Linked DNA regions of Homo sapiens: region 1 is linked to region 2. The links come from fine-mapping of genetic effects on gene expression. A gene starts in region 2. The other region holds a variant in brackets. All regions are shown on one strand. Distances are from middle to middle.

Region 1 (5,371 bases), 71 kb before region 2:
GTAAATCCAATCAGCCTGGATTACATTCATCTTTATACCAACATAGTCATAACATTAATTTTTTTTTGAATGGAGCAAGAGCTCCGTGAAGGCTAAAGTGCCTAGGGCCCCTGAAATTCATGATGTAACTCTGATCTTCCAGCTTCTACACCAGTCACTCCCTCACCCCAATGTCCTCTGGGTTTCTCAGACCCACTGGGGCCACATGTCCTCTGTGGCTTTGCTCCTGCCAGGCTGCTGCCTGTGTAACAACTCTGCTTATTGAGCCCTTCCCATCTGAGGACTCATCTTCCGAGGTCTTAGGTCAAACATTGCCATCTTTGTGAGGCCTTATCTGATTCCCTAAGTGGAAGGAATTGCTCCTTCTAACTCATCCAGCACCTCTTGGAGCATCTCCAGGCTTGCTATGATTTGCTTACATTTAGCGTGTGAGTTCCACGGGGACAGGACCTCGTTTGACGTCTCACGTCTCCACGTGCTTGACACAATACATAAGCTAGATTTAGGGCCAGAGAATGTTTGGGGACATGAGACAGTGGCTGTAACAGAACTTTTCAGATGTGTGTGGTTCTTCATAGCCCAAATCAACTGATTCAGCTAAGGGACAACACAGGTAAGAGAACACAACGCGAGTTTCCTTGACCAATGCCAGAAAACCTTTATTTCCACTGAGACCTCTCATCCAATTCTCTTCTTTCCGGGAACTTTTTCCCTTCCCTACTCCAGGTCGTACCCTGGCCACTCCTTTCCTTTTGGCTGGCCAATGTCTCCTCTGTAGGCTCCAGAAGGCTCTCAGGGATGTAGGCGGCCTCCCGCAGGGTTGAGTTGCAATGGGAACAAAGACAGCTGTGGTCCCATAGCACCCTCATCTGGTGACATCCTGCTACTGACAGTCAAAAGAAGCCTTCCCAGATGAAATTTTAGTCCTCTGCGCAGCCATGCTCTTCTTCCAGCAAAAGAGCCATGTGCAGTCGGGTCTGCTCCCCATGGGGGCTTTGATGTGGGCCCAGCAGTGGATCAGCCTTCCAGACACGCTCAACTCTGCACACTCTTCCTGCCGCCTCAGGCTTTCCAGGACCCTCCCGAGCCTTATCAGAGTCCTTACCCTCAGGGCTACTGATACCTTGCTGGGTGACCTTGGACAGATTCACTTACCTGGACTCAGTTTCATAATATGAAAATGATAGGGTTGGGCTACGTGATTTTCACGTTGTGCTTCCAGATTGTTAGAAGTTAGGGGCTGGAAGGCATTACCTGTCCCTCTCTCAATTTCACTCATGCTACTTTGTTTTTTTAATCTACCTTTTATATGGGGCTTAGAAAAAAGGGTTCTGGGACAAACCTGAGAATCACTGGCTCCAGGAGCTTTCTTTTAACACTAACATCCCAGGATTCCTAAGTGTGCTCTCTCCACAATGGCTACCTGGCCCTGTTTTTCCTTTCTTTTTTTTGGAGATGGAGTTTTGCTCTTGTTGCCTAGGCTGGAGTTCAGTGGCGCGATCTTGGCTCACTGCAACTTCCGCCTCCCAGATTTAAGCAATTCTCCTGCCTCAGCCTCTTGAGTAGCTGGGATTACAGGTGTGCGCCACCATGCCTGGCTAATTTTTATATTTTTAGTAGAGATGGGGTTTTACCATGTTGGCCAGGCTGGTCTCGAATTCCTGACCTCAGGTTATCCACCCGGCTCGGCCTCCCAGAGTGTTGAGATTACAGGCATGAGCCACCGTGCCCGGCCCTGGCTGTTTTCCTATGCTCTGTGGAGGCCAGCCAGCTAGAAATGATTAGAATGGAGGAAGAGGGAATGAGAAGGCTGGTGGCGAGTGGTCTAGCGTTCTTGTGGTGCAGCGGAAGGAGCCCTGGCTCAGCATTGAAGAACGAGCCTCAGTCTTGGCTCCAGCCATCTGCTAGCTATGGGACTACAGACAAGCCCCTTTACCTGTGTCTCAGTTTTCGTATCTGTAAAATAGGCACAGTGGTTTCTGTCCTGTCTTTCTCACAGGATTACTGTACAGATAAAGTAAGATAAAGGACACCTGTCAAGGAGATATCTGTAAACAGTTCTACAGACTTCAGGTAATAATAGCAAGGGAGGATCTCTTAGACCTCTGATCTGTCTGTTAGAATATACTTTTTTTTTTTTTTTTTTTCCTGAGATGGAGTTTCGCTCTTGTTGCTCAGGCTGGGGTGCAATGGTGCTGTCTTGGCTCACTGCAACCTCTGCCTCCTGGGTTCGAGTGATTCTCCTGCCTCAGCCTCCCAAGTAGCTGGGACTGCAGGTGCGTGCCATCATGCCCAGCTAATTTTTGTACTTTTAGTAGAGATGGAGTTTCACCATGTAGTCCAGGCTGGTTTCAAACTTCTGACCTCAGGTGATCCACCTGCCTTGGCCTCCCAAAGTGCTAGGATTACAGGTGTGAGCCACTGTGCCCAGCCAGAATATATCATTTCACTGGACTCTGCAGGTGCTTTGGATGATCAAGGAATAGGACATGGCTGTAGAAGTACTTTTCTTCTTCTTTTTTGTTTTTTTTTGAGACAGAGTCTTACCTGTTGCCCAGGCTGGAGTGCAGTGACACAATCAAGGCTCACTGTAGCTTCAACCTCCGGGGAACAAGCAATCCTCCCACCTCAGCCTTCTGAGTAGCTGCGACTACAGGCATAAGCCACCATACCCAGCTTTTTTTTTTTGCCGGGGGGAGGGTGGGCGTAGAGATGGGATCCTCACTATGTTGCTCAGGCCGGTCTTGAACTCCTGGGCTCAAGCCATTCTCCCACATTGTCTTCCCAAAGTGCTAGGATTTCAGGCATGAGCCACTGTGCCCAGCCTGAAGTACTTTTCTTGAACTCAGCATTGCTGCCCTGAACCCTCCCCCAGCTGCCTTCCCTACTTTGGGAGCCTCTATTTCTAGAACAGGAAAACGCTAGGCTAAATATATGTCCTAATGGTCTCTTCCATCGGTGTGAAGGAAAGAAAATGGGCCCAATGTTGTTGCAAGGATTAGGAAGGTCCTGCCTTGCCACCCAGTGGGTTTAGAAATCCATCTTTACGGCCTCCAGAGAAGCTGGTGATCAGGTTCCCAGACATCAGCAATCCTGTTTCCTGAGGAGCTTGTGGGGGCTCTCTCTGGGGATGATCTGGGTCCTAGACAAAGAGCCACAACTGATGGGGGTCACTGGGATTGCAGGGGGCCATGGCTGGCTTTTTGTCCTGGGATGTCAGGCAGGTACCAGATCCTGAGTTCCTGATGAGCTGATCCTAAAAGATGACAAAGCAAAAGGTCAGTCTGGGCCACAGACCTCTTAAC[G/A]GTGCTACCAGGGACAATGCGATGGGGTGCAATTGACAAAAGCCAAGGGAACCCCACAAGGCACAAAGAGGACACTTCCCCATTCCTTTCCTGCCCTCTCATGAGACACATTCCTGAGTTCCCACCTCTATCTGGTGCCAAATCCCCATCCCTAGCTTCAGACTGAGTGGATGAAATGGTGAAAGACAAGACCATGGGCTGAGAGAAAAATGCTTTCAGGGCCTCCCGCACCCCCAGATGGCCAGGCTCAAAGACCCAGGGCCACTGCTCCACCTCCAATTTTCTGCCTTGGATTATGTTTAGACTGCTCCCTTCCCTGCAGCCTCCAGGTTAGGTTCCTCTTTCCTAAGCTGGGGTGGAGTAGGGAGGCTCACTTGGGGTGCTGGCTTGAGCTCAGCATGGTGGCGGTTACATGGCATATCCTGGAGCAGTGTGGTGTAATGGAAAGAGCCCGTGCTTTCAAGTCAGACCCATCTGGGGCTAAATCCCAGGCCTGCCATTTACTAGTGATGGGTCTTGGGCCAGTCACAGACATGCTGGGCTTCCTCCGGCTCCAGCTCATCTGTAGAAACAGTGACTATTCCTGCTTGGAAAGAGCCTCTGAAAGATTAACTGGACCCAGGCATGTGAGTGCCTAGCTTTGAGCCTAGGACACAGAGGACAAGCAGGAACTATGAATGACTCTTCACCTTCTTCTAATTGGGTTCAGCCTAAAAATGCTTCAGCCATGGCAGAGCTAGCCACGAACCATAACCTGTCACCCCATTTTTACATCAGTCATCACCAAATACCCTTTAAGCCTGAAGAACCCTGCCTGTGGCCACACACACACTCACCTACCTTCTACATTGCTCTACTCCACCCCATGGCGTCTCAGGAAGAAAATGAAGAAAATATAGAGGGGCCGATGTGGCCTCAAGTTCTCTTTTTATTTTTTATTTTTCCCAAGATGGAGTCTTGCTCTGTCACCCAGGCTGGACTGCAATGGCACGACCTCAGCTCACTGCAACCTCCGCCTCCTGGGTTCCGGCAATTCTCCTGCCTCAGCTTCCTGAGTAGCTGGGATTATAGGCGCCGACCACTATGCCCAGCTAATTTTTGTATTATTAGTAGAGATGGGGTTTCACCATGTTGGCCAGGTGGTCTCGAACTCCTGACCTCGTGATCTGCCCTCCTCGGCCTCTCAAAGTGCTGGGATTACAGGCGTGAGCCACCACACCTGGCCTCAAGTTCTTGATTCTGAGCTTTCTGGACACTGACTCACCTGGGCCAATTCCCATTCCTCGTCCTTGGGGACCTGGCTATTCTTGCCAGTGAAGTGACAGCTCCCAAGGCCCAGAGCACCCTTGCTGACATGTAGACACAGCTGCTTTGCGATGTTGTGGCGAAGGTCCCTCTGAGTTGTGTACTCAAAGTACTGGAAATCAAGACAAGAGAAGCAGGTGGAGAGTTCACCCCCAGCCTTCCAAAGCCACCTGCCCTGAGCTGTCTACCATGCATGGTCTCCTGGGGAGGAGAGTGAATGTGAGGCCATGCCAAGACTTTACTCATTTATGTGCTGCCTTCAGGATTGTTACCATATCAGGGTTATGCTGGAATTTTATATACATATATATATATGTGTGTGTGTATATATATATGTGTGTATATATATATGTATATGTATATAAAATTCTTTTTTATGAGATGGGGTCTTGCTATGTTGCCCAAGCTGGTCTCAAACTCCTGAGCTCAAGTGATCCTCCCACCTTGGCCTCCCAAAGTGCTGGGATTACAGGTGTGAGCCACTGCGCCCAACCAGTATATTTTCTCTTTTTTTTTTTTTTTTTTTTTTTTGAGGCAGGGTCTTGCTCTGTTGCTTAAGCTAGAGTGTGGTGGCATGATCATAGCTCACTGCAACCTTGAATTCGTTTGTTCAAGCGATCCTCCATGTCAGCTTCCTGAGTAGCTGAGACTGCAGGCGTGTAGCACCACACTCAGCTAATTTTTTAAAAATTTTTTATAGAGATGGGGTGTCTTGCTATGTTGCCCAGACAGGTCTCAAACTCCTAGGCTCATGTGATCCA
Region 2 (5,358 bases):
GGTATACTGAAGCCTCTCCTGGGCTCAGGTGATCCTCCCACTTCAGCTTCCTGAGGGGCTGGGACTGCAGGTGCATGCCACCATGCCTGGCTAATTTTTTTGTATTTTAAAAATAGAGATGGAATTTCTACATGTTGGCCCAAGTTGGTCTTGAACTGTTGGGTTCAAGGGATCCATCTGTCTTGGCCTCCCAAAGTGCTGGGATTACAAGTGTGAGCCACCATGCCCAGCCCACAGCCTTTCTCTATCACAACTATTACCTCCCACTGCTCTTCTCAATAACTTTCTGCTTTGGCCCAAATTGTGGCTACCCTGAATGGGCCATGTGCATTATTATTCTTAAGTCTTTGCCTAAGACTTGAGATGCTTGCTCTTCTTACCTTGGGTCAGCTAAATCTTACCCATGTTTTCAGACTTAGCTCGAATCCATGTCCTCTGTGAAACCTTCCTGAAGATCATTTTCTCTTCTGAATTTTTGCAATCTTCATGGTTTATATAATATTACTCATTAACATATACCCTGTTTCCCTGATAAGCCTGTTAAGCTCCCTTGGAGATATATATTTTAGATTTCTCTGCCTCTACAGTGTTACTTGGGCCTGTTCATTAGTAGGTGTTCAATACATTTTTTATTAGATTGAATTAAAAGCATTCATATTTACTAAGTACTTTCTATGTGCCTGGGATTGGTTGAGGCTCTGTTGAGTATACAGAAGGGCATAAGAAAAATAATCATTGCTTTCAAAGAACTTATAATATTTTAGTAAGCTAAAGTCAACATATAAAGTACTTAAATAACCACAGCATGACAACTGCTATAAGAAAGGTATGAAGTGCCTTGAGAATTCTGGGGAGGGTGAGATGACATCTGTTAGGGGTATCAGGGACAGTAGAATAAAGAAAGGCTTCTTGGAAGAGGGTGGCTTTTGAGATTAACTTTGAAGGATGGTTAAGATTTTGATGGACAAAAATGGGGATGAGGGTAGGATGTGAATTCCAGATTCAAGATGACAGGATTAGTAAAGAGATTGATGGAGTGTGTGGCAATGAACACTAAAACGCAGAGACTAGACAGGAGGCTTATACAGGACATCAGAAATACAATTCTGCTTCAGGGATACTGAAGCCCAACCTTGTTTCCAATTTCAGGACCAACACAAAGGATGGTAAGCAGGGGTGGAAAGTTTTAACATGTATCAGACTACCTTCCCCAACTGTAGCTTCTTTAGGGGCTGAGAATTATTTGCAACAATTCTTCCCCTGACCCCAATTTGGACCTACCTGAAGTCTGGTATGATAGTGCATATAAAACAAAAGGCCCCACGGCCGGGTGCCATGGCTCACGCCTGTAATCCCAGCACCTTGGGTGGCTGAGGCGGGCAGATCACCTGAGGTCAGGAGTTCCAGACCAGCCTGGCCAACATGGTGAAACCCCGTCTCTACTACAAATACAAAAAAATCAGCCGGGCGTGGTGGTGGGGACCTGTAATCCCAGCTACTCAGGAGGCTGAGGCAGGAGAATCGCTTGAACTGGATAGGCGGAGGTTGCAGTGATCCAAGAACACGCCATTGCACTCCAGCCTGGGCAACAAGAGTGAAACTTCGTCTCCAAAAAAAAAAAAAAAACAAAAAAAACAACAAAAAAAAAACAAAAAAAACCCAAAAGGTACCTTTCTTTTTCTTGAGGAGAGAGGGTTGCTTCGATTTTAGCCAGCCTCTCTTTTCTTATAAATCCAAATCAAATTTAATGCATTATTCATGATATTCTAACCTTGTGTTAAGTCAGTAGTTCTGTTGCTAAATAATAGTTTGCCTTAGATCATTTCCTGGAAAAGTTCGAAGCCTTTTTGTGGAATTGCTTCAACAGTCATCCTTAGCTCGACCCTGTCCGTGTGTTTTGCTTCTGACTTGAGACTCAAGAAGAAGACCTAAGTCATAGTGAGACTGTGAGGGAGCCTGACACTGCCTGCCTTCTTCAATTTAATGCTCTTTAATCTGGCCATTAGCTCAAGGAAAAACAATTAATTTTAGAAGGCCCTCTCCCCTCATCCGCAATTACCTCCTCCTGCAATCGCGAAGGATGTTTGCCCGGAATTTAAACATCATCTCCCAAGGAATGAAATCAGAATAGGCAAAACCGACACTTTCCCAGTTTTCAAGGGTCAGGTGCAGCTGCAAATAGAAGCAGAGATTTTCTAGCAAGCAGTTGGAAGGACCTTCACGCCCAGAGGCCCCTGAAGGGAGGGAGGCGGTTTCCAAGGCAACCGGGCCCGGGAGCGGTTGGCTCCCCGGCTCCTCCCCCTCCCCGCGGTAGCCCAGGGTACCGCCGGACAGCGTCCTCCCGTGCTCCGCGCCCTGATTGGCTGCGCAGGCCTCTCGCTGATTGGTTGCGGCGGATGCCTCGCGGGCCGGTGGCTATGGAGGCGGCGGCGGTTGATGGTTGACCGTTGGCTCCGGGGTGGGGGTCGCCGTTCGAGTGATCTGCTCAGACCCGACCAGAGGGCGCGGGCTGCTGATGCTTGGCTTGGAGCCCGTGGGGGAGACCTAGTTCGGCTCCGCCATGCCGGCCGCCGGGAGTAACGAGCCGGACGGCGTCCTCAGCTATCAGGTAGGGCCCCGCCTCCCGCGCCTCCCGCTCCTCCCCGGGGCGCAGCCTCCTCATCCTCTGCCCACCCTCCTTCCTTCTGCCCCCGAGCCCAGGCTTCCCAGGCCGCTCCCTGAGGGCGAGGGGAGGCCAGCCCGGGACACCAGGGGGCGCTCCGGGCGGTTGGGGACCAGGCCAGGGCTGCGAGAGAGTGACCTTGGGCCGAACCTGGGATCTGGCCCATCTCTGCCGCATCCCTTGCGCCGCCCGCCCAGGAGCCCTGACAGCCGGCGGGCGGCGACCTCTTGTTCTCCTCGCGTCTTTCTGTTGGAAGGGGCCGGCGTCTGGCCTCGCGTTGTCCTGCCAGAACGTGGGCAGAAAGGGTAGCAGGGACCTTGCTCTGGTGGGGCACGTCTTCTCTTTGTGTTTTTATTTCTGGGGGTTTCTGGTTCCTCAGTGGTTCAGAGGAAAAGCCAGAAAAGACTCTGGAGGCTGGGACCAATCCCTGATAGGGTGACCCGGTTTGTGACTCCCTCTGCCCCATTGAACAGACACCTGAAAACTTCTGGGTAGGGACTGCAAACTGGGCTGAGGATGTGTGGAGGGGTCAGGAACAGGTGCTTATTTAAGGGAATTAAAAAACCAAGGTTAAGTAACTGGTATTGGAACTGTTGGGGCGGCTAATGTAAGGAAAAGCATTGGACTAAGTGTTAGAGTCTGTAGTTTGAAATCCTACCTCTGCCTCACACAAACTTTGTGACCTTGAGTAAGTCACTTGCCTCTTTGAACCTCAGTTTCCCCAGCTATTAAAATGGGAATAGTTATGTCTGCTTTGCATGCTTCACAGGGTTGTTTTGAGGATCAGACGAAGTGCTGTTTGTGAAAGGGCTTTGTGGAGTAATGTTTATTGTGTGACACTCAGTGAATGAGTGGCAGCCCATTGAATTCTCACTCCCCGTTTCCTGTGCAATCAGATGGTGTGGTTTCTGCCTTGGAAAGAGGGTTGGAAGAGGAGGCAAGTCTGAAGTACAGGGCTCTGAAGAGGGTAATGGGCCATCTCAGGAAGGATGACACGTCTTGGAAACAAGTGCCATGTTGACCTCAGGGATGGTTTCCCCGAGGAGGCAGGGAAAATATCCTGAGTTTGCAACAAAATGAGTATCAGACACTGACTCTCTCCTCTTCTTCCTGGTTAATAGTTTGCTACAATTAATAGAAGATACATCCTTCTTTCCTTGCTCTGTCTGAAAAGAACAATATCTAAGATTTTGGAAAATGCATATCTAACCCCCTTAAAGCCTATTAAATGTATTCAATCTCTGTTTGGGATACAATGGTAAGAAAAAATAGGCAATGTTCTTGCCCTCCTGGAGCGTATCATTTAGTGGGGGAGGGGAGAAGTACTATTTTTAATCAAATATCACACAAATAAATATCATAAACTGTGATAAATGCTTTGAAGAAAGATAGGCAGTGCCATAAGCGTGTATAACAGTGGTTCCAGACATGGTCTCAGAGAAGATTTTGCTAAGGAAGAAAATCTGGGCAAAGAGCTAAAGGATGAATAAATGTTAACTGAGGGAAGAGGGGGATCACAGGGCCTGAGAGGCAAAGAGAACAGCTACACAAAAGACCTGTGGCAGAGGGGGACACACCTGGTTAGAGACCTGAAATGAGGCCAGTGTGGTGCAGCAACAAGGAGCGATGAGGGGAATGGTATATGAGATGTGTTCTGGGGTTATAACACACAGGGCCATTTGGAGCCCATGCTGAGGAAGTTGACATTTATCTGAGGAACAAGGGGAAGCCACTGAAGGGGTTTAAGTAGAGGGGAAAGGGGAGAGAGGGGGTCTCTCCTAACCGGGAGAGAGAGAGAGGGCATGAGAGAGTAAATGAGATCATGAACAGATTTTCTTTTTTTTTTCTTTTCTTTTTTTTTTTTTTTGAGATGGAGTCTTGCTCTGTCGCCCAGGCTGGAGTGCAGTGGTGCGATCTCCACTCACTACAAGCTCCGTCTCCCAGGTTCACGCCATTCTCCTGCCTCGGTCTCCGGAGTAGCTGCGACTACAGGCGCCTTCCACCACGCCCGGCTAATTTTTTGTATTTTTAGTAGAGACAGGGTTTCACCGTGTTAGCTAGGATGGTCTTGATCTCCTGACCTCGTGATCTGCCCGCCTCGGCCTCCCAAAGTGCTGGGATTACAGACGTGAGCCACCGTGCCCGGCCCAGATTTTCCTACTGAAAGATTTCTTTGGCTGCAGTGGGGAGAATAGGTTGGAATGGATGTGAGGATACAGTGTCCTTAACATGCAGAATGTTTACAGGTTATATTATTGAGGGCATCATGACCCTTAGGTTTCTGTTAGTGTTCTGTGAAATTAGTAATTCTTGAGTACTTCTGGAGTAGGATAGAAAATATCTCCTTTATATCTAGTTTGTGAAACTTTCTTGGGTGGTAGGGTGAGGAGAAGAAAAGGAATACAATGGGAACAGTAGGACCTCATGAAGGCTGGAGTCAGGTAATAGGCAAATGGAAATTTGAGAGATAGGGAGGAAAAGAGAATGAGGGTAGAAGGAGGAAAGGAAATGGGGATGACTTGGGGGAGAGACAGTCAACTGACTGGCAATGACCAATTAAACCTTCTATGTGCTAACTAGGCTGTGTGGAGATGGGCCTTGTAAAGTGAGCAGATTGTGTAACTTGATGTAAACAGAGAGGTTCCAGACATCACCTCTAAATATCATAAGGCTGTGCTGTTTTGGAAGATGTGAGC

Evidence for each region. PIP is the estimated chance that this variant, and not a neighbour inherited with it, causes the effect. A credible set is the group of variants that fine-mapping cannot tell apart.
Region 1: its variant is the best candidate, but not a certain one, in a credible set for the expression of SLC4A8 in substantia nigra (GTEx, PIP 0.87).

Annotation. Positions count from the first base shown.
Region 1 is chr12:51,351,237-51,356,607 of GRCh38, forward strand. GALNT6 (polypeptide N-acetylgalactosaminyltransferase 6) reads right to left here. Exons shown (of 12, transcript NM_007210.4): 11 at 4,570-4,722; 12 at 16-3,256. The coding sequence ends at 3,143. Among named protein-coding and RNA genes, the nearest start is that of CELA1, 7.2 kb to the left of the region's middle. The variant G/A (reference allele first, on the strand shown) is at 3,306.
Region 2 is chr12:51,422,428-51,427,785 of GRCh38, forward strand. SLC4A8 (solute carrier family 4 member 8) reads left to right here and starts at 2,404. Exons shown (of 25, transcript NM_001039960.3): 1 at 2,404-2,608. The coding sequence starts at 2,561. SLC4A8-AS1 (SLC4A8 antisense RNA 1) reads right to left here and starts at 2,901. Exons shown (of 3, transcript XR_001749147.2): 1 at 2,813-2,901; 2 at 2,060-2,172. RefSeq lists silencers at 2,163-2,372, 2,643-2,852 and an enhancer at 2,963-3,022.